Linked DNA regions of Homo sapiens. The protein of the gene in region 2 purifies or fractionates together with the protein of the main gene of each other region. This does not show direct contact. Each region holds a gene or a part of one and is shown on either strand. Other genes may lie near its edges.

What was found.
Region 1: the proteins of ENTREP1 (region 2) and ANKRD13A purify together in Homo sapiens (affinity purification with mass spectrometry; 3 studies listed by BioGRID and IntAct, with this or other methods). This does not show direct contact.
Region 3: the proteins of ENTREP1 (region 2) and STXBP4 purify together in Homo sapiens (affinity purification with mass spectrometry; 3 studies listed by BioGRID and IntAct, with this or other methods). This does not show direct contact.
Region 4: the proteins of ENTREP1 (region 2) and ANO6 purify together in Homo sapiens (affinity purification with mass spectrometry; 3 studies listed by BioGRID and IntAct, with this or other methods). This does not show direct contact.
Region 5: the proteins of ENTREP1 (region 2) and DNAJC1 purify together in Homo sapiens (affinity purification with mass spectrometry; 3 studies listed by BioGRID and IntAct, with this or other methods). This does not show direct contact.
Region 6: the proteins of ENTREP1 (region 2) and RHBDD1 purify together in Homo sapiens (affinity purification with mass spectrometry; 3 studies listed by BioGRID and IntAct, with this or other methods). This does not show direct contact.
Region 7: the proteins of ENTREP1 (region 2) and CUEDC1 purify together in Homo sapiens (affinity purification with mass spectrometry; 3 studies listed by BioGRID and IntAct, with this or other methods). This does not show direct contact.

The regions. Positions count from the first base shown.
Region 1 is NC_000012.12:110,030,430-110,033,929, reverse strand, and holds part of ANKRD13A (ankyrin repeat domain-containing protein 13A), read right to left. Parts: intron 3,286-3,500; coding exon 3,172-3,285; intron 1,484-3,171; exon of another isoform or gene 1,220-1,483; intron 134-1,219; coding exon 1-133. UniProt on the Homo sapiens protein: Ubiquitin-binding protein that specifically recognizes and binds 'Lys-63'-linked ubiquitin. Does not bind 'Lys-48'-linked ubiquitin.
Region 2 is NC_000009.12:69,387,715-69,391,214, reverse strand, and holds part of ENTREP1 (endosomal transmembrane epsin interactor 1), read right to left. Parts: intron 3,058-3,500; coding exon 2,765-3,057; intron 1-2,764. UniProt on the Homo sapiens protein: Functions as an activator of the E3 ubiquitin protein ligase ITCH in the ubiquitination of the CXCL12-activated CXCR4 receptor. Thereby, triggers CXCR4 endocytosis and desensitization, negatively regulating the CXCL12/CXCR4 signaling pathway.
Region 3 is NC_000017.11:55,076,765-55,080,264, reverse strand, and holds part of STXBP4 (syntaxin-binding protein 4), read right to left. Parts: intron 2,188-3,500; coding exon 2,071-2,187; intron 1,580-2,070; coding exon 1,530-1,579; intron 1-1,529. UniProt on the Homo sapiens protein: Plays a role in the translocation of transport vesicles from the cytoplasm to the plasma membrane. Inhibits the translocation of SLC2A4 from intracellular vesicles to the plasma membrane by STX4A binding and preventing the interaction between STX4A and VAMP2.
Region 4 is NC_000012.12:45,345,095-45,348,594, reverse strand, and holds part of ANO6 (anoctamin-6), read right to left. Parts: intron 1,574-3,500; coding exon 1,508-1,573; intron 568-1,507; coding exon 280-567; intron 78-279; coding exon 1-77. UniProt on the Homo sapiens protein: Small-conductance calcium-activated nonselective cation (SCAN) channel which acts as a regulator of phospholipid scrambling in platelets and osteoblasts.
Region 5 is NC_000010.11:21,916,731-21,920,230, forward strand, and holds part of DNAJC1 (dnaJ homolog subfamily C member 1 precursor), read right to left. Parts: intron 3,200-3,500; coding exon 3,102-3,199; intron 2,143-3,101; coding exon 2,049-2,142; intron 1-2,048. UniProt on the Homo sapiens protein: May modulate protein synthesis.
Region 6 is NC_000002.12:226,863,554-226,867,053, forward strand, and holds part of RHBDD1 (rhomboid-related protein 4), read left to right. Parts: intron 1-1,050; 5' UTR 1,051-1,140; coding exon 1,141-1,573; intron 1,574-3,500. UniProt on the Homo sapiens protein: Intramembrane-cleaving serine protease that cleaves single transmembrane or multi-pass membrane proteins in the hydrophobic plane of the membrane, luminal loops and juxtamembrane regions.
Region 7 is NC_000017.11:57,868,413-57,871,912, reverse strand, and holds part of CUEDC1 (CUE domain-containing protein 1), read left to right. Parts: intron 1-543; coding exon 544-627; intron 628-2,719; coding exon 2,720-2,791; intron 2,792-3,500.

The DNA.
Region 1 (3,500 bases), on a different chromosome or scaffold from region 2:
TGCTGGATGGCAAACTGCATTATCTCGTAATCTTCATCTTGCAAATGCACATTTCTGCCATTGTCTTGAACATAGTAAGATTCGGGAATTTCAAACACAGATTGATCAACCTCAAAGTTTGTGATGTGGGAAGCTGAAACAAAAGGCAACCGTCCAGTGTCTGAGTTCATTACATTTCCACTCCAACTTTTTGCAAAAATGTTGTACATTAGAAAAAAAAGAAAGGCTCAAAATTATAACAATCAAGGCTTACTATTATATGAGAGATTCTGAGGAAGCATGACAGAAAAAAGTGACAGAATACAGCTTTTTTCTTTTTCCTTGATTTTAGTGGAAACAACGAACACAGTCATAAAAAAATACACAAGACTATAAAATGAAAAGCGCAGATTTCTCCCCCTAAACATATACGCACAGTCACACCAATGTGTTTCTTCCTTTTGCAGGAAGATATATGGTAAATATATAAAAGTATATATAAAATATCTGAACACTTAAAAATGATAATAATTAAACAAATGCCTGTGTGCCCTTCACCTAGCCTAAGACACAGAACACTATCAATAACTGCCGGGCGCGGTGGCTCACGCCTGTAGTCCCAGCACTTTGGGAGGCTGAGGCAGGCAGATCACAAGGTCAGGAGATCGAGACCATCTTGGCTAACATGGTGAAACCCCGTCTCTACTAAAAATACAAAAAAAAAAAAAAATTAGCCGGGCGTGGTGGCGGGCACCTGTAGTCCCAGCTACTCGGGAGGCTGAGGCAGGAGAATGGCATGAACCCGGGAGGCGGAGCTTGCAGTGAGCCAAGATCGCACCACTGCACTCCAGCCTGGGTGACAGAGTAAGACTGTCTCAAAAAAAAAAAAAAAAAAGAAAAAGAAAAAAACACTATCAATACCATACTGCGGGCACATCCCTTGTTAACAATATTCCCTTCTTCCTCTCCAGAGGTAAATACATAATTCAGAATAGTTGTTTACACTGCCTAGCTCTTCTCTGGAGCTTGCCACATGTATATCATCCTAATAGTTTGTATTAGCCTGTTTGTGAACTCGACATAAATGGAATCATGCGGAATTTATTCTTCAAATTGGATTTTCTTCATTCAACATTATGCTTTTGAAATTCAACAGTTTTGACGCACATAGCTATAAATTTTTATTTTCAATACTATATGTTATTCTGTTGTATTAATAGAGCACAATAGCGCATTCTACCATCTCGGGACATTTGGGTCGTTTCCAGGTTTCTGCTGTTATGAATGGATGCTGCTGCCCAGTACTGGGGTCTCCAGATGCTCATGTGCATAACTTTCTTTAGGGTACACATCTAGGAATTGCTAGGTCATCCACATCTTCAGTTTATACAGTAATGCCGAATGTTTTATTCAAGGAACTATACCAATCTCCTCTTCCAGCCAAGAGTGCACGAGTGTTCCTTAGCTGCACAACCTCATGAACACATCTCACCCAACTTTGTTGCTACATGGGAATGTAAAGGTGTATATTATTGTCGAGTTCAATTGTTTTTATTTGAAGTCTTAATTTATATACATTAAAATGCTATCTTTTAATTCCTCCTACTGGTAGACTACAGGGGAGAAACATAGGACCATCATGATAGTTGCAGAAAACACATCTCACAAAAATCAATACTTAAAAATGGTAATAACTCTCAGCAAACTAGAAATATAAGAGAATAATGTCCTCCAACTAATAAGGGACATTTATAAAAAACCTACACAGCTAACATCATACCTAATGGCACAACAATCCTTCCTCCCCTAGAACCAGGAACAAGACAAGGACAGCCATTCCTACCACTCTTACTCAACATTGTACTAGATGTCCTAGCCAGTCCAGTAAGTCAAGAAAAAGAAATGAAAAGCTTAAAGATTAGAAAGGAAAAAGTAAAATTTTCTTTATTAATAGACAACATGACCATATATGTAAGAAATTCTAAGAAATCTACAAAAAAGTGTAAGACAAGTAAATTCAGCCATGTTACAAGATAAACAAGGTCAATCCTGGCCATGCAATTGTGTAAGAAAAAAAAAAGATAAAAAATTTTTAAAAACGATTCAAGGTCAAAATACAAAACTCAATTATATTTCTATATACTAGTAACTGGAAATGAAATTAAGAAAATAAGTCCATTTACAATTGCATCTAAAATCATGAATTGTATTGATGGCAAAGGAGTGTAAGGAAATTTGGGGGCATATGGAAATGCTGTCTACCTTGACTATGGTGGTGGTTACACAGATGCATACATTTGTCAAAATGTGGCTGGGTATGGTGGCTCACACTAGCACTTTGGGAGGCCGAGCTGGGTGGATCACTTGAGGTCAGGAGTTCCAGACCAGCCTAGCCAACATGGTGAAACCCAGTCTCTAATAAAAATACAAAAATCAGCCAGGCATGGTGGCACGCACCTGTATTCCCAGCTACTTGGGAGACTAGGCAAGAAAATCGCTTGAGCCTGGGAGGCAGAGGCTGCAGTGAGCAGAGATTGTGCCACTGCATGCCAGCCTAGGTGACAGAGTGAGACTCTGAGAAAAAAAAAAAAAATGCACTGAACCATCACACTTAAAATGAGAGCATTTTATTGTATGTACATTACACCTCAATAAAGCTGATTTTTAAGAACATCCTTTCTTTTTAATATAACTAGGATCATATATATTCTACAAGTTTTTTTTTGCTTAATCTAAACTAAATCTGAAATTTTCTTTCATCCAACACAGACATCTACTCCCTCAGATATTCCAGCTTCAGAGTGAATTATGAATATGATGACTGAATTATAATTTTTTTTTTTTGAGATGTAGTTTTGCTCTTGTTGCCCAGGCTGGAGTGCAATGGTACAATCTCGGCTCACAGCAACCTCCATCCCCCCGCCTCTCCCCCAGTTCAAGCGATTCTCCTGCCTCAGCCTCTCGAGTAGCTGGGATTACAGGCATGCGCCACCACACCCGGCTAATTTTTGTATTATTAGTAGAGACAGGGTTTCTCCATGTTGGTCAGGCTGGTCTCAAACTCCCGACCTCAGGTGATCCACCCACCTCGGCCTCCCAAAGTGCTGGGATTACAGGCATAAGCCACCACGTCCGGCCATAAATTTTTTTTTAAATAACAAAACTAAACTTTGTATTTATTTATTTTTTTACCTGAATCAGCCTGGGTCCCTTCCACATTTTGAGATACAGATTCTTCGGCAGTGCTACAGCCATTAACATTTCCAAATGTAATCCGTGCATTTAAGACATGAAACAAGGGAATTTCTAACAAACAAAATAAAAACTTTTATAAGTAAACTTTACTGAGAATAACAATAATAGTTATCATTTACTAAGTGCTTACTATGCCAAGTACTTTGATAAGTATAATTTTATTTAAGCCTCATAACAACCCTTCCCAATACACAGACGGGAAAACTGAGATTGAGAGTTGTGTATTTTCGGTCAGGCGCGGTGGCTTACACCTGTAATCCCAGCAC
Region 2 (3,500 bases):
AGAATTCCCATAGCAATGGGGACAGTTAGCCTGGACTCAGGCTCAGGAATCTGTATTTTTAACAAGAATCCAAGTAAGAACCACTGGTCTGGGATTGGGACCAGGTGATGGGTTTATAAAATGTCAACCAAGTATAGGCGCAGTGGCTCACACTTGTAATCCCAGCACTTTGGGAGGCTGAGTCAGGAGGATTACTTCAACCCAGGAGTTTGAGACCAGCCTGAGTAACATAGTGAGACTCCATCTCTACAAAAAAAAAAAAAAAAAATTAATTAGCTGGGCATGGTGGTTCATGCCTGTAGTCCCAGCTACTTGGGAGGCTGAGGCAGAAGGATTACTTGAGCCCAGGAGTTCTAGACCAGCCTGGACAACATCGCAAGACCTCATCTCTACTAAAAATAAGAAAACTTGGCTGGGCGTGGTGGTGTGTGCCTGTAGTCCCAGCTACCTGAGAGGCTGAGGCAGGAGGATCACCTGAGCCCAGGATTTCAAGGCTGCAGTGAGCTATATCTACACCACCGCACTTTAGCCTGGGTGACAGACGGAGACCTTGTTTCAAAAAAGAAACAGTCAACCCAAACCATCCAATGATGCTTCAAATGGATCTGATAATCCTTTAATAAACAATATAAAAATTAGGCCAATTTATTTGTAAAAAGTCTTTAAGAATGATTCTTTTTGCTAGATCTATTTTGCAATGTGTCACAAACATAATTTTGAATATATAATAATATCACTTACTCTGTAAAAATGGCAAAAATATGAAAAATTCCTCATCCAACTGGGATTGAAGAGGAGAGAACTGTCCGGTCAATTTTTTAAAAATTGCACTGCCATGTTTCTTTGACCCATAATACTGTCAGCAGCTTCGGAAAACCTTGGGGCTTTATTGTTACCTAACATCACAGCACAATCATTTGGATGACTTTTTGTTTCATTTGTACCATTCTGAGCCTTTAAGGTCATTAAAAGATTATTCCTCCAAAGAAGGAAAATTAAATTTTATTAACAGTCTACTAATTACATTTGTCTTTAAGGTCTGTCCTTGTCTCCCGATTAAGAATAAAAGTTCAACATTCAAAGAAGTTGACTGTGCTACATAGTAAGTTAGGACAAGTGGTTTTGATATCAGTGAAAATCAAAATGGATCTAAAAACTCCAAGATGCGAAGCCAGCTAGAGTCAGAAATAACTGGTCTCCTTCTGCTGTCCTTACCTCCTTCTGGTGTTCTTACCTCCTTCTACCAGGGAAAAGGTATAGAATTGTGAAAGCTCACCTCTAGGTTCCAGTCCTGGAAGGCCCAGGAGATGGCCCAAAATCTATCACAACAATCTCAGCACCTGAAGTTTTAACCTGCCTGGGGCACAAAGATCTAGCAAACATTTGTGATGATAGCATCTAGTGAACTGTATAAGTGCTTGTTCTTCTTCCCCAGAGCTATTTCTCAGGGAGCAAGACTTTGCAGAAGGTCCAGGCCCACTACCTGGTGAATGCTCCAGCTCTTAGCTCATCAGAGCTTGGCAGCCTTCCAGAAGTGACTCCTGATTATTGGGCTATTGGGGCCGGACAGAGGGAAGGTGACAGACAATGACATCTGGAGTAGCTAAGGGACACCAGGATGTAAAATGTTTTCCCTACATAGGTTAGTAACTGGAGCCTCACCCGGAACCGTCAACTGATCACTCTTTCAGAGTGCAAACCCAAGAGGGTCTGTGGTTCATGTACCTCTTCATGCAAGTAATCAGATCATTCCTCCCCGCTGAATCCCCTGAGGGACTGGGAGAGAGTTTGGCTTCTGGCTTCTGTAAGAAGAGGCCAGCAGGTAGAAAGGGGGAACGGAAGGGACAGTGAGAGGGTATTTACTCAATTTGAATTGAAAATTTACCTACATCCTGAAGTTGGTAATTACCCTGAGAAATTAGCCCACTTCAGTTGAGGAAGTATTTGTTAGCCATTTAATGCCCAAAGACACAGAGCCACAAAACATCCATACGCCATTGTGGGGTGCTGTCTACAACATCCACCCCACTACCTGCAGCAATGAAGCCAACACCTAAAAGGGAATGGCTCTTAAAAGAGGTGGAGAGAAGGCTCTTACCAGAAGGAAACTCCATTCATTCAAAAATAAAGGTAGAGAGACTACCTAGTCCAACCATTTACTTTAAAGAGGAGAAACCTGAGACCCAACTGGATTATGTTCATGCCCAATTCTATCTTTTCCCCAAGTGGCTTCAGTTTCGGGGATTGCCTTGTACTTTTTAATCTACAAGAAGAAAAGGTGCTTATTCCCTTAGGACCTGTTGGCTTATTTATCTTGCCAAACATTTCATGGGAATGTGAACAGCCTCTTAGAATCTTGTTGATATTAAAATTCACCTATGTCATCATTTCCAAAGGGCTGAGAAAACATGCCCTATCAAAGGAAACCTTCAATTCAGGAAATCAAATGTTGAATGCACTCCACACTGTCCACATCCTCCGCTTTTATTCCTAGGATGCACTCTTTAATTTTCCCAGACATGCTTCCACATCCCAGAAAAACTGGGTTCTCTTCCCTTGAGCCAAGAATGATGTGGGAAAGTTACCACACTTGAAAGAAAGCTCCCCGGCTTCCTCTGTCTCCCTCCCCAGAACTCTCAACCCAATTTCCCTGAAGACTGTGACCATGAACTTACTCTGCCTTGGACAAGAAAGCGGAGAAGCCACTTTAGCTGCTATGAAAATGAGTCATCTGATTCATGCCTGAGATTAATAATAAAACTACCTGTTCTAGAAAACTGGCACTTGTGATGGCTTCCTCCATGTGCTCCTCATCAGATTTCAAAACAGATTTAATGTTTTCTACAAGTTCATGGATGTCTGGGGTCATGGTACAAGAGGACTGCTCCAGGAACCTCGCCACCAGCAGCTTGGTGTCCATGTAGGATTTGTAATCTATCAAAGACCGCGGTCTGCATCGCGAAGCTCTAGATCTCAAGCCTCTCCTCAGAGTCACTGCAGCCAGATCCAGTCTCCTTTCAGTCTGTGTTGCAGCTTCACAGCTGAGCACTGGGGCAGCTGTGGGCAGAAACAAACAACATGTACCCATTGGCCAACCCCTTTTGAACATATGCCTGTACCTGAAAGCACAGACCACAAAACTCAACATGGAAAGCATCTGACAAATGCTGATAGCCATGCACATCCTGCTTTTCATCTTGCAGAAGGAGGGAAAACAACACAAGGTTATTCCCTGAAGTCCAGTTCCAATAGGATATGGCCCGAAACACGTCATTGTGTCATGTACGACACCACCCCCAAGGTAAAGCCAGATGGTGGAGAGGAGAATCCAGAATGCAAACCATAATGAGGTTAAGTTTCATGGGGTATGACAAATAGATGGGGATGGATGGGCCAAGCAGGAAAAATGTGGCTGACCAATGAAAGGATGTTCCAAGGAGCGAGGATGAAGTAGTCAATTAAGAGAGGAAGGGGCTGAAGAGAGACAAGACTTGTCAGAT
Region 3 (3,500 bases), on a different chromosome or scaffold from region 2:
GTTTTTACTAGTGTTTAATTTACTAAGACACCATGAAATGTTGCGTGATGTAGCTATTTAAAGTTGTCTTTTTTTCCATGAAGCAGTTTAAGGCAAGGGCAGGCTCTGGCTTTTAAATAGTCATTTTAACCTTAATTTTTAAAACAAAACTTTTGAATTATTAGTCAAGGTAAAACTAAGACCTTGGAAAGCTGAGGGTGGGTGACACACTTAGCCCATAAAGAAATAAATGTGATTACTGATTATTTTAAGATCCTTACTGAGAGTAATAATCATGAAATTCACAGAGTTTTCTTGTATCATAAGCAGCAAGGAGAGTAAGAAGTTATGTCAGGTTCCTTCATCATAAGAAGTAAAACATTACTTGAGTTTAGAAGTGAATTATAAATATTCTTCTAAATTAAAAAATGCTATGTGGACACCAAAAATATCTTCACTTATTAAGCTGCTGTTTTCACAGTAAAGGGTAGAGTATTTATTTACTTTTTGAGACAGGGCATCACTATGTTATCCAGGCTGGAGGGCAGTGGTATGATCACAGCTCATTGCAGCCTCAATCTCCTAGAGCTCCTGGGCTCCAGCAATCCTCCTGCCTCAACCTCCCAAGTAGCTGGGAATATAGGAATGCACCATCCCATCTGGCTATTTCTTTTTTTTTTTTTTTTTGTAGAGATAGGGTCCCACTGTGTGCCACTATGTTCCTTGTCTCAAACTCCTGGGCTCAAGTGATCCCCCTGCCTCAGCCTCCCAAAATACTGGGATTACAGGTATGCACCATCACACCCAACCTCATTGAGTCTTCCTGTTTCTGCAAGCGTATATTGCTAGAAGTAGAAGATGTATCTAGGACTAGTGGCAGCTATTATGAGAGCAGAAAAAAATTACTTTGGAAATGCATAAACAAGAATCTTTCTTTTGTAAATGTCTTTCATCATGTATCAAAATGACCATAAACTTGTGGTTTGAAATAAATAAATTTGATTAGTATGTTTCCAGCTTCTAGTAAGAAACTTTAAATCCAAAACATATTATGAATAATGAGACAATCGAGGTATATTCTCCAAATATATTTCTTTTATTTATAGCTACTGAAAGATGAAAACGAAAGAAAATGATTGCATGAATATGTTTTCCAAAATTCTGTTTGCCAGAACAACTAACCTGCTGGGTTGAGACACTTTTAGTAGTGAACCTGTGACCAGTAACTTTGATTCATACGCAAGACAATTACAGAATTTTAAGTTAATCTCATCTTTATAGAATTTTTGATAAAGACAGGATAGGTGGTTTCTACCATAATTTTAGATTACAAGGTTACAATGATTGACTAAATACCTCCAGGAATTTCTTTAACAGAGATGGGACACAAAACAATATGTCCTTGCATCTATTTCCATATGATGGCATCCAATGGGAGTTATGTAGCACCTTAGGACTATTTAAGAGATTTTTAGTATTTGAGTCACAATGACCAGATGAAGAATTTAATCACTACCCATATTCTGCAAAAAGCACTTAAATTTTCTTACCTTAAATTTGATAAAGGAGTAGAATTATCAGAAAATACTTCTTGAATAGCCTAGCAACAAACAAGATGGTGAAGGAGATATATCAGTTTGACAGTTTTTAAAAAATATCTTTTCTTCATTAATATTTATAACCTCCTCTGTCCACGGATTAAACTGATGCTTCTATTATGTAGCGGGGGTGCAAACAATTGAACTAACATGCAGTTTTACTCAGAAATATAACAGCTATGAAAACATTTCTTTATAAGGTAAGTAGTTATCAAATAATGTTTATGCATTATCAGGATTTTTGGTAAAGTATTCATTAAAATAGTATATACTTGGAATCCCATCACCTTGTCTCAATTATTTCTCTAAACAATCTATAAAATGTTAGCCAGTCTTTTCATCATGTATGCAGTTCTAAATCTGACCATAAGCCAGCATTGCTGCTTTGAGACTAGAGAATGTTTCACTAGGTACCAAATACAGTAACATTTATCTATATGCCAGTTGCCTATATATTTTTTAAAGATGAATGTAATAGAACAGAAAAACTTACCTCTACAAAATGAAGAAGCTTTTCAGTGGATGCCTCAAAAGTTTTTCGAGCCATTTCTGATTTTCGTAATTGGCAGTCGAGTACCATGATTCTCTTTTTTAAATCCTGAACACTTTCCTGCACAGAGATATCAAAAGGAGCATTTACACATTTCTTCAGTTTTACATTACTGGTCCCTATTTTCAGTTTTTATGAACTAATATTCAATATTACCAAATTATCTTTTTCTCTTACTGTACATATGTTTTGATTTTGGGGGGCATGTAACTAACTGCATATTTAAAAGTTAATTTGCACAGAGATACTGCAAGTTTTATGAGATAAGTTGTATATGAGTTTATTGATTCTTATAGTAAAATACATTTAAATTAGTTTATGGTTTTGTTTTGTTTTGTTTTTGCAATGTGTCTTACCAGATGCTGACAGAAACCTCTACTAATTTAACATAACTAAAAATGCTGGATACACACACACACACACACACACACACACACACACACACACACACGATGTAAGACAAAGCTAGCAAGGAAGTAAAGGAATTCCATGGAGACATGCAACAGCGATGCCAAGTGAGCCCACTGGGGTAAGAGAGCACTGAAGCATTATTTGTTCGGAGGGTATATGCTGATCCCTGGTGGCCTACAGTTTGGGGTTTCAACAGTCACAAATGGAAAACAGAAGAAACTCAATGGGTGAACTGGGAAGAAGTAAACTTCACAGAGGTAAACAGTGTTTTGATGTTGGCTCAGGTGACTTGAGTAAAAAAGTTTCTCCTGAATAATTCCTAACCAAAAGTCCCCATTCACACAGGTTTGGGGCCAGAATTTACATTATCTGTGTGGCCTAAAAAGCCATATGCTGAAATTTTACTTTAAATTGGTCCCAGGCTAGCAGAAGCAAACTCAAAACTCTGGAGAGATATTTCTAAAACTCAGAGCTCAAAGAATTCCCACTTATAATGCATTGATAGAACATGATCTCACAGACACAAACAAAAATCACTAAACATATGAGAAAATAAGCTCTATGAATGAAAGCTAACTGAAGGAAATAAAGTACAGTATCAGATCTATAAAGACAGCAGATATTTAAGTGAGCAGATACAAAATATAAGGCAATTATGTTTAATATGTTTTTAAAAATAAGAGGGAATTGAAAGTATAATACACAAGAAACTATTGAAATAGATCCAGATAACATAAAAAATACATCTCAAAAATAAAAATGTAACATAACTAAATTAGAAACTTTATTTATAGATTTGACATCCAGTTAGATACAATTATAAAGAGAATGGGTGAACTTGACAACAGAGGTAAAGAAACTTCTCATAATGGAACAGAAAGACAAAAATTGAAATACAAATGGGGAGAAAAGGTAAAGAGAAAACAGCCAGAAGAAGCTATAGCACACATCCAATCTGAATT
Region 4 (3,500 bases), on a different chromosome or scaffold from region 2:
TTTACAAGTCTGTTGATCCCAAACTTGCTAACATTGTTTATCACTTGATACTTGACCCGAGAGAGGATGAAGTAAACCTAAAAAGATTCCAAAATAGAGTATGCGGTTTATATAGTGTAATTAACCAATCCAATCATTGTTTACTACTGTAACACAAATCTGCTGGCATATTTCTTTTCTTTTTGTGCAGTTTTTAAAAATAAAACCAAACCAACCAAACCACAAAACAGCAGGTTCCAAATTACCCCAAGACAGCAACTAAATTTGGTTTAGACTTACAATGCGGCTTCTGGTGGCTGGATTGAAGAAAGCATCTCTATCAACTATGTAAAAATCATTCATCCGGTTCTTCTCAAATGGGGCAGTGAAAAACTCTTGCTCTGGCTTGATGATGCTTTCGTCTACACTGAGGACTTTGGTAAACCAGTTGAGTGTACCAAAGGCTGAGGACCGGTTTTTCAGATCATTGGGTTTCAGAGGCAATTTGATGTGCATTATCTCAGCATACGTACATAACACCTCCCATGGTGCGTGTACTTTTACAAATACAAGCTTGTCATCCAATACCTATATTGGAAAAATAAAAACGCAGAACAAGAAACCAACTCTTTTCACAATTTTAAAACACATAGATTTTTCTTATGTTGTTGGTAGCTTTAAAAAAACAATACAGAGACCACCACTAAAAGTGAAGATAACAATAAAAACAGATTTGCAAACCATCATAAATTTTTGTCTTAAAGACGATTTCTTGGTTTGAATCATTAAGGAAGTAATTCAAATCATCATAGTTCATAAAACTATGAAAATAATTTATAAAATGAAGAAAACCAAACTTATTTGTCTATCACTCTACCCTAATTATTGACTTAAAGTAAAAACACTAGAATATTCATTGTAGTGCTAGCATAATGAAAAATTTTTAATTTTCTAAACCTCGAATGAACTTATTGTCTATCTGTTCAATATCATATTATGTGGCTGTTAAAAATGTCAAAGAATTATATTTATTGACATAAATCCATTTGCTATATATTAAAGGGAAAAAGCAAATTATAAAACTGTGAAGTGGTAATTTTCTCCTTTTTGAAAGATAAAAAATGTGTACATATATATTTTTGAGTAAAACAGCTCAGAAGGACTGCAAAATTATTTATGGATAATTAAGATACAGATTATTTTCCTTATTCTTATGTTTTCTAATTTTTTACCATAAACTATTTTTTGTATAACAAAAAAGCTTTTAGAAGTTTCTTAAAGAAAGAAAATAATCATTCATACATGCATTCATTGTAAAATTCGTTGGCTATTAAAAAAGATCTGCTAGTTTTGATCAGAAAAAAAGAATACATCCTACACAATGCAGATTTTGATTGACTCCTCTCCCAGTCTATGACTAAGATGTGGCCAGGGCTGCATGTTTCCAATGTCACCCAAGTATTCCAAGTGGCACGAAGCTGCCCGAGAACAGTGGTCAGCCGAGGGCTGAAAAGGGACCAGTACTTACTGATCTTGTTGCTTCTAACTGCAGGCCATGACAGATAAGGTTAGATTCGTATGCTTGTCTTTTCCTCTGTCAAAAGAAGTTGGAATATATGTTAGACCTTTAGTTTACCAAAGGCAGAAAAAGGCATTTTTTAAAACAATATTAATAACAAAATCAAACTAGCGTGGACCTGAAAAAGAAATGCATCAGCATTTGGTCAAGCAAATGGAATAGAAGAAATGAAGCAGCTCTTGCTGCTGGTGACATGTAAGTGTTGGATCCCCAAGAGAATGCCGTGGAGGGTACTTCGATGCCCTGGCACCCTGGAAGGCCCTTGGCTGTCCTGGTGTGGTTTCAGTCATCTGAGGTAAATAACAGTATCCTGCTTTGACACAATCCCACGTACTTTTTGGCTCATAAAAGCATACAAATTGAGCTTTCTGAGTCCTATTCACTGATACGAGTTTTCAGAGTTGAAGATTCCAGATTTTAAAAATTTGGTTTCCATACCAGACATTCAAATGGTTCAATTACTGGATGTGTATGCGTCATCCCTGCATATCTTGACCAAATTCAATAAAACAACACAGGCAATTTTGGCAAAATTCAGATAATTTTTTTCTCTCTGCAAGACTGAGATGTTTGTGAAGCTATGTCTAAATCCATAAAAATAGTGAACTAAATTGATATCTATATTACATGGCCATTTCAAAAGATACAGAATATACTACACTTATGGATATTAAATTCTAGATGCCTAGGCTTTTGCCAAGCTGTGCCCAAAGTTGTAAGGGAAGCATGCAAAGATGGAGACTTGTTTGACCTTTTAAAAAGAATGCTTTTCATGACAAAACAGTTTATACTGCTTTGTGAAATGAAGAAAATGAGTAGACACAGAGGTTAAGAACACAAGCTCTGCTATGGTTTAAATATGTCCCCCAAAAATCATGTTAGAAACTTAATCCCCAATGCAACAGTGTTGAGAGGTGGGGCCTACTGAAGGGTAATCAGGCCACAAGGGCAGACTTAACAAATTAATGACATTATCACAGGAGGGAGTTTATTAGCATGGAATGAGCTCCTTATAAAAGTTTGGCCCCCTTTTGTTTCTAACCCCCCCGCCCCATTTTTGTTTCTCCCTACCACCTCTCTCTCCCCCACCACCGTGGGGGTGACACTGCAACAAAGTCCTCACCAGATGCCAGCCCCCTTGATCTCAGACTTCCCAGCCTACAGAACTGTGAGCCAATCAATTTCTGTTCTTTATAAATTAGTCTGTGGAATTCTGTTACAGCAGCACAAAATGGACCAGAATGAGCTCTGTAACCACACTTCCTGGGTTCAAAATCTGATTTATTATTCATCAACTCTATGACCCATGACAAGAAAATTAAACTCTCCATGCCTCATTTTTCTTCATCTGTAGAACTAAGAAAACCCACTTGTTTCCTTTTTAGGGTCTTGTGAAGATATGATTTAAACTACATAAAGCACATGAAGTAGAATTTTCATTTCCAATAGTGACAAAAGGTAACTTGGGGCAAGCCTTACACTGAAGACAGCTGAAAACGCTGGGTGGAATATTTAGCACAGCAGTTAACAAGACAGAGAGGAACTGCTAGGTCCAGGTCGAGATCATCTAGTGGGTCTGGCAGTCAGACACTTTACCCAGGGAACAATACTCATGATCTGCCCACTCTAAAGGGACAGAGTGGGGATGAGTTGCTGTGCTATGCACAGGGCCTAGAACATAAAAAAAATCCCATAAACTAGAAGTAGGTGAAGCTGCAGGAAAAAGACCAAAGGTCAAAAAGTAAAAGAATATACCTGGTATTTGGCTACATTTGAGTCCAAGTGGAATCCCTGATGTATTGTGTTGAAGTATCAGAAAAAGGATATTGCTTTGTTTTTATATCTTTAATAAATGGTTGTACAGTACTTAAAACATGCCAGACACTGTTCTAAGAGCTGTTCAGATATAGTACATTTAACTATTGGCTGCAATTTGAACATA
Region 5 (3,500 bases), on a different chromosome or scaffold from region 2:
ACTACAAAACAAAAAGCGACAAAAATCTAATCCTGAGAGCAACTGAACAGTATTGTTTTGCTAATGTATTTCATAAGCAATCAATCTAAAGTACTTTCTAAAGTATTATAATATATATTTGAAAGAGTCTACTGCATTACATTATTTTGTTAGTGACCACTAGAAACACTAATCTAAGGTCCCCACAGCAGAATAAAAATATCAAATATTTCCTTTAAAAAGGAAAATCATCTTAATTTTCTTCTTGAAATCCATTTATCAAGAAGAAATAATTAGAATAAAATTTAAAAATTAGATTTAAAAGGTCTTGGAACCCTAATGCCTAGCATCTCAAAACCGAAAGGCCAGCAGATACCATCAAGTAAGTAAAAACTTTAAAATTCAAAGTGATCAGTTAAAAAAAGCAGAGTTTCTAAAGAAACTAAAAAGTTTCTGTAAAATTCCTCATTTTTGTATATTTTCTACAAATTTATGATGAGGCAAAACAATCAATCTATTACATGAATTAACAGCTATCACAGGCAAGTATTTTAAAGTAAATTATAAATCTAAGCCATAACAATATGTTGGTTCTAGTCTGGCAAATTACCCTGCATGCTAAACAAGAAATATGTTAATTTTACCAAATAAATTTTATTTCAAATTAGATTAAAATTACAAAGAAGTGTTTAATATTGATATCTTATGTAATATTCTATTTATACTGCCTCATGAATATACTTTTTAACTCATCTATATTCTGGTTTGCCTATTGCACGGATTCTAAAGTTGGCAAAAAATAATCAGACTTCAAAAAATAAGAAAATCTGCCCTAAAAATATTTTCTGCCTCATTTTCTCATAAACATACCAGTGTGATAAAGACTTTCCCTCCCTCATTAAGTCTTACAGACAGCATACAAACATTGCAGAGTATTTTTTCAAGCAAACAATATAACACACTAAACAACTTAAAAACAAACCTTTTAAATTACCAAAATACTGTAATTTTTCTCTATTAACTGTAAACAAAATATAAGATTCTATAAGCAATAACTATTAAGATGAACTATTTTGATGGAAGAACTGGTAATTTCTCAAAGGATAAAAAGAAGCACACTAGTATTTTGGTTCAATATCCCCTTTAAATATAAAATTTTCATTATGAGAAAAATAAAGGAAAATGCAGAAGTTGTAGTCATTAGCTTCCTTAAAAAATCAGGAAAAATAGCTCTAATATATAACTACAAAGTGGGTAGAACTGAATTAGAATATTATCTGGTCCTCTAGATTATAAACACTTATTTTCTAAAATAAAACATTTCTCTCCAAAAAATTACAATCTCAACCTCAAAATCTGTACACCAAAAAGTGTTTTATTTACTTTCAAATATTTATGTGTTGGGGATTTTCAAACCTGATGCAAAAATCAAAATTAACAAAGCAATAATTTAATAAAATATGCTTTGGTATACTAAATGTAAAAAAATAAAAGAAACTGACATCTAAATATGATACATATCCACATTTTATTATTTAATCAAGACTAAATAGAAACAGAAACTCATTACCTGTATAAGACAAAATGTCCTCACTCCTCTTAAATTTGCAAATAAAATGGAAAGCAATATATATTTTGGTACAATTATACAGATGTTCATGTAAAGTTTTTTTTTTTTTTTTTTAACACTATGTACTTAAATGCTATTAAAATAATGGGTGGCAAGCTACTTGAATACTGTTCCTTTTTACTGGTTATGCTTTTAATGATAACAGTGGATTAAATTTTTATTGCTTTTATCTCTGTACTAAAGATAGTATGTTTTTTTCTTTTTCTAGCATCTTGGGACTCTAAGGTGATCTAAAACCATTATAAAAGATAATTACAGAAACATATCTAAATTATCTTAGAATTATCTAAATTAGGTTTAACTTATAAAAATCCTACTCAATCAACATTATAAAGCATCCACTGCATATCAGCATTCAGAGAGCCGACATGGGCATAAATTATTTCATGAGTGATTAAAAATAAAAGATCTAATGTTATATAAAAGAGGTACATTTTACCTGGATGAGGTGAGGTAATGCTTTTAGTGTAAGGCAAAACCAAATCCCCAGTTTGCATGGAAGCAAATCATGCCACTGTGGTTTCATCAGCAATCTAAAGGGAGGGAGAAAAAAGAACACCATACAACATATGAGGAATATACAGAGAAAGTTGGGAGGCAAAATAATTCTATAAAGATCATGAATTCTTTTGTGAATGGCTACTTCAACAAAAAAAATGAAGAAAGTATGCACTGAAATATTTATAACTGACTTACTCCATCATGAAATACAGTAGTCACAACAAATGCAATATATATAGCATGTAAGAGAATCTAGGCTAAGATTTTGGGGAAGGAGGCTCCTAATCAAGTTACAAAGATAAACAAAAGCCTTCTTTCTAACCTGGGCTTTTCATCACTTTTGTACAACGAATTCTTAAGCCTTATGATTACTTCAGCTATAAAAAACTAACCATCATCAGAGTGTTCCCAAGTGCTGACAACCAGATATGAAGACTGTAGCATAAACAAACCAATACATAAAAATTAATGTCATTTGCAGTTCACTGAAGCATTACTCACTGATGTCATCAGAATAGATGACAGGCAGAATAGTCTCTGATCTCCATCCCACATTGATCCCAGTTCATGCCCTGCTGTGTGAACTATTTAAACCCTTTATTCCTTTCTATGAATCAATAGAAGAAATGGTGGTATCTTTTTGAGTGTACTGCATATCACTGCCTCTCTACATACTGTCACTCCTGAGCTAAGTGATAGGTCCGTCTAATAGTACTTTGTTTCTAAAGTTCAGTATAAAAATTTCAAACTAGAAGAATTTGAGGGATTATTTAAATATATAGTCACACTTTATATGGGGGAAAAAACCTGAAGACATTTTGCTTAAGATTAGAACTTGTCTCATAAACAATGGCACATTATTAGTCTTTTATAAGACTACCACAGATATAAATGAGAGCACATGTAAATAGACATACATATGAAGTTGAATCATATTAAAGATGTATTTTAAAACAGCTTCAAATTATAAAGTATTTTTATATGCTCTCACCTTTCATTTTTTTCTGAAGCACCGAGTTTTGATACATCCACACTCTTGCTGCCAGTCTTTTTTTTCTTTTCTCTCTTTTTTCTACTTAGTAGTTCATCCTTAATGTGGAAAGAATTATGGTTACAGGTTATCATTAACATGTACACTTCAAATGTTATCTAGGCTCTTCTGTGAAGGGTAAACATTATAGAGGAACATTTATGCAAATGTATGTAGGGTCCAACATGATTAAGTAAAATCATCAATCTTTCACAATAACTGTTGCCATGGTATCCAGGCCTTAAACACACATGAAGTTCAGGACTGTCAGTCATGTGCATCTCCATAGCAATCAAAGTTTTCTAAGAAGAGAAAGCATTCAACTCACTTTTTCTCATTCATCCAACTTTAATAATGTCA
Region 6 (3,500 bases), on a different chromosome or scaffold from region 2:
TTGTATACCTGTGGTCAGCTAGACAGCTTCACCTCTGGAGTAGTAGCTGACCAGTGGCAAGGACCTTCAGGGTGACTGGAGTGTGTGCCTCTCTTTCATTACCCAGCAGGCTGGCCTAAAGTTTTCACATGTTGTTTGAGAGGGTTTCAAGAGAGAGAAGCCTATAAATCATCTTGAGGTATAGGCTGGGAGCTTATGTAGTATCCCTTCCTCCACATTCTGTTAGCCAAAGCATGTCACAGTGCCAGCCCAGGTCCAGCGGGGTGGAGAAGCGGGCTAGTAAGCCATGGAACTTCTCATTGTCAACCCCAAATCACCCTTGAAGACCATAGTCAGATCACCACCTCAGGCTGTGTTGTGTGCCTGTGCTCTGGGTTCCCTCTCTCACTGCATTTAGAACATTATGTGGCCACTGTTGGTTTATTTCTTGGTGGAAAGTGAGCCTCTTAAAAACAAGGACTGTGTTTCAACCCAGGATTTGGCTTGTAGAGTAGGTAACGAAAAGCTGAAGTTGTTATGAAAGTAGAGTTCAGACCACTGATATCTGGCAGTGTGGAAATTGGGATTAAAGATAATGTATGCTCGTGTCTTAAAACTTGCTTGTTGATGTTTAAAAACTTTGGAGCAAACTCATTCTAACATATCAAAATCAAATATTTCTTTGAAAAAAATGGAGGGGATAAAGAATCCTGGCCAGGATTCTGAGTAGAAATCATTTAATACTTGCACACTATCTTTGTAGGTTTTTCATGAGGTTACATGTTTGTTTGGGAAGTGAAGTTAATTTCGTGGTGTGTTTGTCAGAGAAAAACATACCTGTCCATTAACTGATTCATTGGGATTTGGGATAACATTTCTATTCTAGAATGTAAAATGAAGGAAGGGTGTCAGTCAGCATCCTCGATATTACTCTTGAAGATGTCGAACATAAATATTTCTGTTAGAATGAGAAGTAGCATTTGCCTCATGGGAGTTTGTCTTGAAGCGAGTATGTCTTATATATGTACTAATTCTTAATTGATGGTTTTTCACATGCATTTTGTGTTTTAGGTTCAGCCGTCTGTATATCTCCCCAGATACCTGAAACTGACCACCTGAGTACGTTTTCCCATTGCTGAGCTGTTTCCCTGATATCTGGCCATGCAACGGAGATCAAGAGGGATAAATACTGGACTTATTCTACTCCTTTCTCAAATCTTCCATGTTGGGATCAACAATATTCCACCTGTCACCCTAGCAACTTTGGCCCTCAACATCTGGTTCTTCTTGAACCCTCAGAAGCCACTGTATAGCTCCTGCCTTAGTGTGGAGAAGTGTTACCAGCAAAAAGACTGGCAGCGTTTACTGCTCTCTCCCCTTCACCATGCTGATGATTGGCATTTGTATTTCAATATGGCATCCATGCTCTGGAAAGGAATAAATCTAGAAAGAAGACTGGGAAGTAGATGGTTTGCCTATGTTATCACCGCATTTTCTGTACTTACTGGAGTGGTATACCTGCTCTTGCAATTTGCTGTTGCCGAATTTATGGATGAACCTGACTTCAAAAGGAGCTGTGCTGTAGGTTTCTCAGGTAAGGGAGACAAAATTTTGAGGTTGCATGCATAAAGGAAGCAAGGGAGGTGTGGCTGCTGTCATTTTATGAAGTGTGGGTCCCTATCAAATTCTGAGTGGTTAAGGGCTGCTGAGGCTTTGCGTCTTGAAGAGGAGGCTGGAGCATGCAGGGACTAGTTTTTGCCATTCTACATTATGCTGCATTATTCACTCTTAGTCTGCACTAGGACCTGCTGGAAGGTGGTTTTGTAGAAGACATAGTATTGGAAATATGCACCAGCTCCTTATGGTAGGGTCACAGAAAGACCCACAGATGTATTTGTAATAGGGAGTTCTCAAAAAAGATGACTGTGCTTGTGAAGTAGGCTCAGTGTGCTGTCTCTGATTACCAACTTGTCTGCACCTGGTGAGACAGAGCACACTCATCTGCAACAAGTTACATGAGGCAGATTTAGTATTTACAGTTAGGCAGCAAGGGAAAACAGGAGCCTAGGATTCATCGTGAGCCCATCTTCAAGGCTCAAAAAGCTGCCTAGGGCTGTTGGAGTCTTCACTGTGTGTGTTCCTTGCATGCAAATAAGGAACCCCAAAGAGGCAGCCAGGTACAAACCTAGGAATCACATGAATCACTGGGCAAAGCTTTGAAAGACATCCTATTCGGGAGAGGATTAGGCTGTTTCAGCCAGCCCCCTTTTATCTCAGGGTGTTGGATTTCCAGCACATTTCCATAGTTATTCTTGAGAACTACAAGCGAGAAAGGAGGGGGAGAACTACATAGGTCCAAGGCCACCTGGAGAACTGTCCTGCGATGCCTCTGGATGACTTCGTTAATAAATGGACCACACCCTGCTATGGCATGCTGGCCATGTTTTAGGAGCCATGATAATCACTCTGCATAACCTAACCAATTTAATTTATGCAGCAGATCCACATGGAGATGGGATTATCTTTATTTTATTTTATTATTTATTTATTTTTTTTGAGACGGAGTCTCGCTCTGGCACCAGGCCTGAAGGGCAGTGGCGTGATCTCGGCTCACTGCAACCTCCGCCTCCCAGGTTCAAGCGATTCTCCTGCCACAGCCTCCCGAGTAGCTGGGACTACAAGGCACGCACCACCATGCCCAGCTAATTTTTGTATTTTTAGTACAGATGGGGTTTCACCATGCTGGCCAGGATGGTCTCTATCTCTTGACCTTGTGATTCACCCACCTTGGCCTCCCAAAGTGCTGGGATTACAGGCGTGAGCCACTGTGCCCGGCCTTGATTTTATTTTACTTTTTTTATTTGTAGTTTTTTTTCTGACCACCTGCTGACTGTTGAGGGATTGTCTTGATTTTATAGATGAGGAAGCCAAGACCCAGAGAAGTGAGGTTACTAGCACAAGGTTACCCAGCTCGGAAGCGATGGAGCTGGGACTTGAGCCCAGTCTACAGATTAGCTGTGTGATGCATTGTCTCTCACTTTCTTCCTCACTAGTTCCTTTTTACAGATATTTCATGGGACCAAAATTGCCAGCAGGATTTAAATTAGGCGTTCTAAATATTAGAATGTGAAGGGGAGGAGAGAGGTAGTCCTGAAACAAGGAAATCTAATCCTTCCTTCTGCTTTTCCTGACATCCTTCCCCTTTCCTTCCAAGATGTATCCTTATGCATCTAATTGTGGGAGAAGAAAGAATATATGCCCTGTCTTCAACATGTTTTTCCATAGAGGTTAGAAAAATACATATTACTGGTATTTTTATTGAGTTAAAATTTATATAGCATAACTATTTTGTAGTGCACAGTTCACTGGCGTTTAATACTAATAATAGTATTTTATTCACATGGTAGGTATTATGTATTTAGTAGCATACTGAACACCAATATGAACTTCTATATTTAGAAACATCAAAGGAGTGACTGCCTTTAACGTTGTCTTTTTACCAAATGCAAGGTTGTAAGGAA
Region 7 (3,500 bases), on a different chromosome or scaffold from region 2:
CGCTCTTGTCACCCAGGCTGAAGTGCAGTGGCTCAATCTCGGCTCACTGCAACCTCCGCCTCCCAGGTTCAAGTGTTTCTCCTGCCTCAGTTTTTCAAGTAGCTGGGATTATAGGCGCACGCCACCGCACCTGGCTGATTTTTGTATTTTTAGTAGAGACGGGGTTTCACCATGTTGGCCAGGCTGGTCTCGAACTCCTGACCTCAGGTGATCTGCCTGCCTTAGCCTTCCAGTGTGCTGGAATTACAGGCATGAGCCACCATCCCTGGCCGTGCCTTTCTTTTTAAATGAGGGGGTTTGGACTCTACAGTCTCTCTGAGTCCTTTTAATTCTGACATTTGAGATGGCTGTCAGGCGGTAGTTTCTTTTACTGCTGGTTCTTTGAGAGCTGGTAGATGTGTGCACTCATATTTTGGGTGCCCGTGTGTGCTCATGTGTGATTCTGGGGACTTAGCCTCTAGCAAACTACCGTGTCCCAGCCCAGCCTGCCCCTGGGAGCCCAGGAGCTAACCTCCCTGACCTGTGAATGTGGTCCTTTTCCAGATCGATTGAAATACGAATCCCAGAAATCTAAATCCAGCAGCGTGGCTGTCGGAAACGACTTTGGCTTTTCCTCTCCTGTCCCAGGTAACTTTGCCTTCTGGGGAAGAAAACCTAGAGGCATAGTGGGGAGCTCACACCCAACTTTGCTTTGCATATTTGGAGTTTGAGAGGAGGGTGAAAAAACAGATTGTGGGAGGGGGCCTGGGCCTCCTCAGCAGGCTGGCGGGGCTGCTTCTGCCCCCATCTCCATATCCAGTCCATTTAGCAGCTCTGGGGTCTTTCCAATCCAGCCACTGCTGGGCTTCAGAGCCCACAGTTGTGTTCAAGTAACATAGGCTGGCTGAACTCTCAACCTATGCCTCGAGTGTAGGCTAGTCAATGACACATGGCCAGGTGCGGTGGCTCACGCCTATAATCCCAACACTTTGAGAGGCCGAGGAGAGTGGATTGCTTCAGCCCAAGAGTTCAAGACCAGCCTGGGCAACAAAATGAGACCCCCCTATCTCTACCAAAAAAGTACTAAAAATTAGCTGGGCATATTGGCCTGTGCTTCTAGTCCCAGCTACTCAGGAGGCTGAGGTGGGAGGATCACTTGAGCCCAGGAGGTTGAGGCTGCAGTGAGCTGTGATTATGCCACTGCACTCCAGCTTGAGTGACAGAGTGAGACCCTGTCTCCAAAAAAAAAAAAAAGAAGAAAAGGACCCCAAAATGCCCCGTGGTGGGGCTCAGAGACTCATAAGTCTTGGTCTGTGTCCTGGGGAAGCTTATGGTCTTGTAAGGAGAAATGCCCAGAAAACAGGTAGAACAAACTAGCAAAGCTGAGGACTTACTGATTTTAGCAAATGCATGGGAAAAAAGGAGGGCAGGATTAATCTGGGGAGTTTACTCATTCATTCATGACATAGCTGGAGAATATCTGCCATCTGTTGGGCCTTGCCCTAGGTGTTGGAGGAAGAGGAATTTCTAGCTTTGTGTACAAGGTGGTGGGAAGTAAGAATTGCCTGTAAAGAGGGCCAGGCCCTTCTGCTCAGAAGCTCTGATGGCTGAAAGAGGGTTGGATAGGGGTGAGGGGGCTGCAGTGCTCCTGGGATGCGCAGACTACTGGGTTGAGCCACAGCTGGGAACGATGACCTGGTGCCTGTGTGCGAACAGTGGCCCCTCATCAGTCAGTGCCCCCTGCCCCACATGTACACAAGCTGCCCACCTCGGAGAAGGGCTCTTGCCTGGAATAGACCTTGCATCATGCAGTGGAGTTGGGGGTGGAGGAGCAGAGGGATGGGGAGCTGAGCTGATCCCAGCTTGAAGGGAGAAAATCCTGTGGAACTGACTCATAAGCAGCAGGCTGGGAGCTTAGGGCTCAGCAGATGTGCAGCTGGGAGTTTTAAGCAGGAGCCTCTTGTCCTTGATCCTGAATTAACTAGAGATACCGGGGCTGCTGAGATGGATCAGAATGACTCAAAGGGGACTTAGCAGGCAAGGTGACTGGGGATTAACCAAGTTGCAGGACAGAGAGCAGGGGCTTCAGAAACCAGCAAAAAACCCAAGTGGATGCTGAGCGAGCCCGGGAGACTCTGGGTGGCCGGTGGGGTTCTGACTCCAGGACTAGTCCCATTCTATTCCTACTCATTGTCTAATAGCCAGAAACCCTGTGGCTGGGAGGGAGCAATGGATGGGCTTACCTGGCAGGAAGGACAAGGGACTTGCTACAGGTGAATGCCGGCTCTGAGCCAGCACCTCATTTGACTGTCACATGAATGTCGGGGTGCAGGAGGCCCCTGGTGTGCTGGTGAATGTTTCACAGCCAACTCTGGGTGCAGCGGGAGCCTGATATGTAGTGCTTGGTGACCTCCATGGTGGAAATACTCCCAAGCTACCAAGGTGATGTCATGAAACATGGAGTTGGTCAGAGGCGTGGACAGTTGGGAGCACACACGAGCTGGCTGTCTGCACACACAGTAGACCGCTGAACCCTCCCCATTTTTACAGAGGAGGAAACAAAGTCCACAAGGGGAAAGAGGAGCTCCTGGAACTCCACATCCTCCTTGCTTTAAACTCCCTTCTGGCCAGGGAAGAAGCCTGCTCTTTCTTTGCATTTGTCCTCAGATGGGTGGGTAGGGCTGGGACAGCGGCCATGGCTGGCCACGGTGGCCGGCCTTCAGCAGGTGTCTCCTTCCAGGAACTGGCGACGCCAACCCCGCTGTGTCTGAAGATGCCTTATTCAGGGACAAGCTGAAACACATGGGAAAGTGTGAGTCCCACTCAGGCCCCGCTTCCCTCCCCAGCTTTTCTGAGACAGGCCCTGTGGCCTCCCAGGAGTGAGGGAGCCCCTCAGCACATGTAATGCAGCTGACTCTTGGTGAACCAGTGACATTTTCATCGCAGGCTGGCTCCCTCAGCCTTCCTGCCTCACTTCCCTCTACAGCTGAGTCTAGATACAAATTAAGTTTTAAATCCTCTTGAGCCAGATGTCTGCAGAAAAATAACGTGCCACACATGCCCTCACCGCAATCCTCATGTTCACGTTCTCTGTGGCTCGAGGAGGCTTGGCCGGAGCTGACTGCACAGAGAGGCCCTTGCTAAGCCTCTGTGGGGGTGGGGGACCTCTTTCCACAAAGTCCTACCAGCCTTGAATGCCCCCTTCCCTCCCCCTCACCTCCCCGCCACACAGACCCACAGCCATGTGTGAATGAGGCTGCGATCCTTTCAGGCTCCATTTCAAGGAAAATCTCGGATTAGTCATGGAAATCCCAGAACCAACTTTGGAGGTGGCTAGGGGAGGGGCGGGAAGGCGGTGGCGGCGGGAAAGCGAGCCAAGATGCGTTGCAGTGTGTTGCAGCTGGGGAGGGAATACTTGGATCTTGAGCCGCCTGCGGTCCCTGGGCCTGGCTCAGGGTGTCCTGTGCTGCCCCTGCAGGCTGACCCAGGATGTAGCCTCTTGCTCCTGGGGTGGCGTCCTC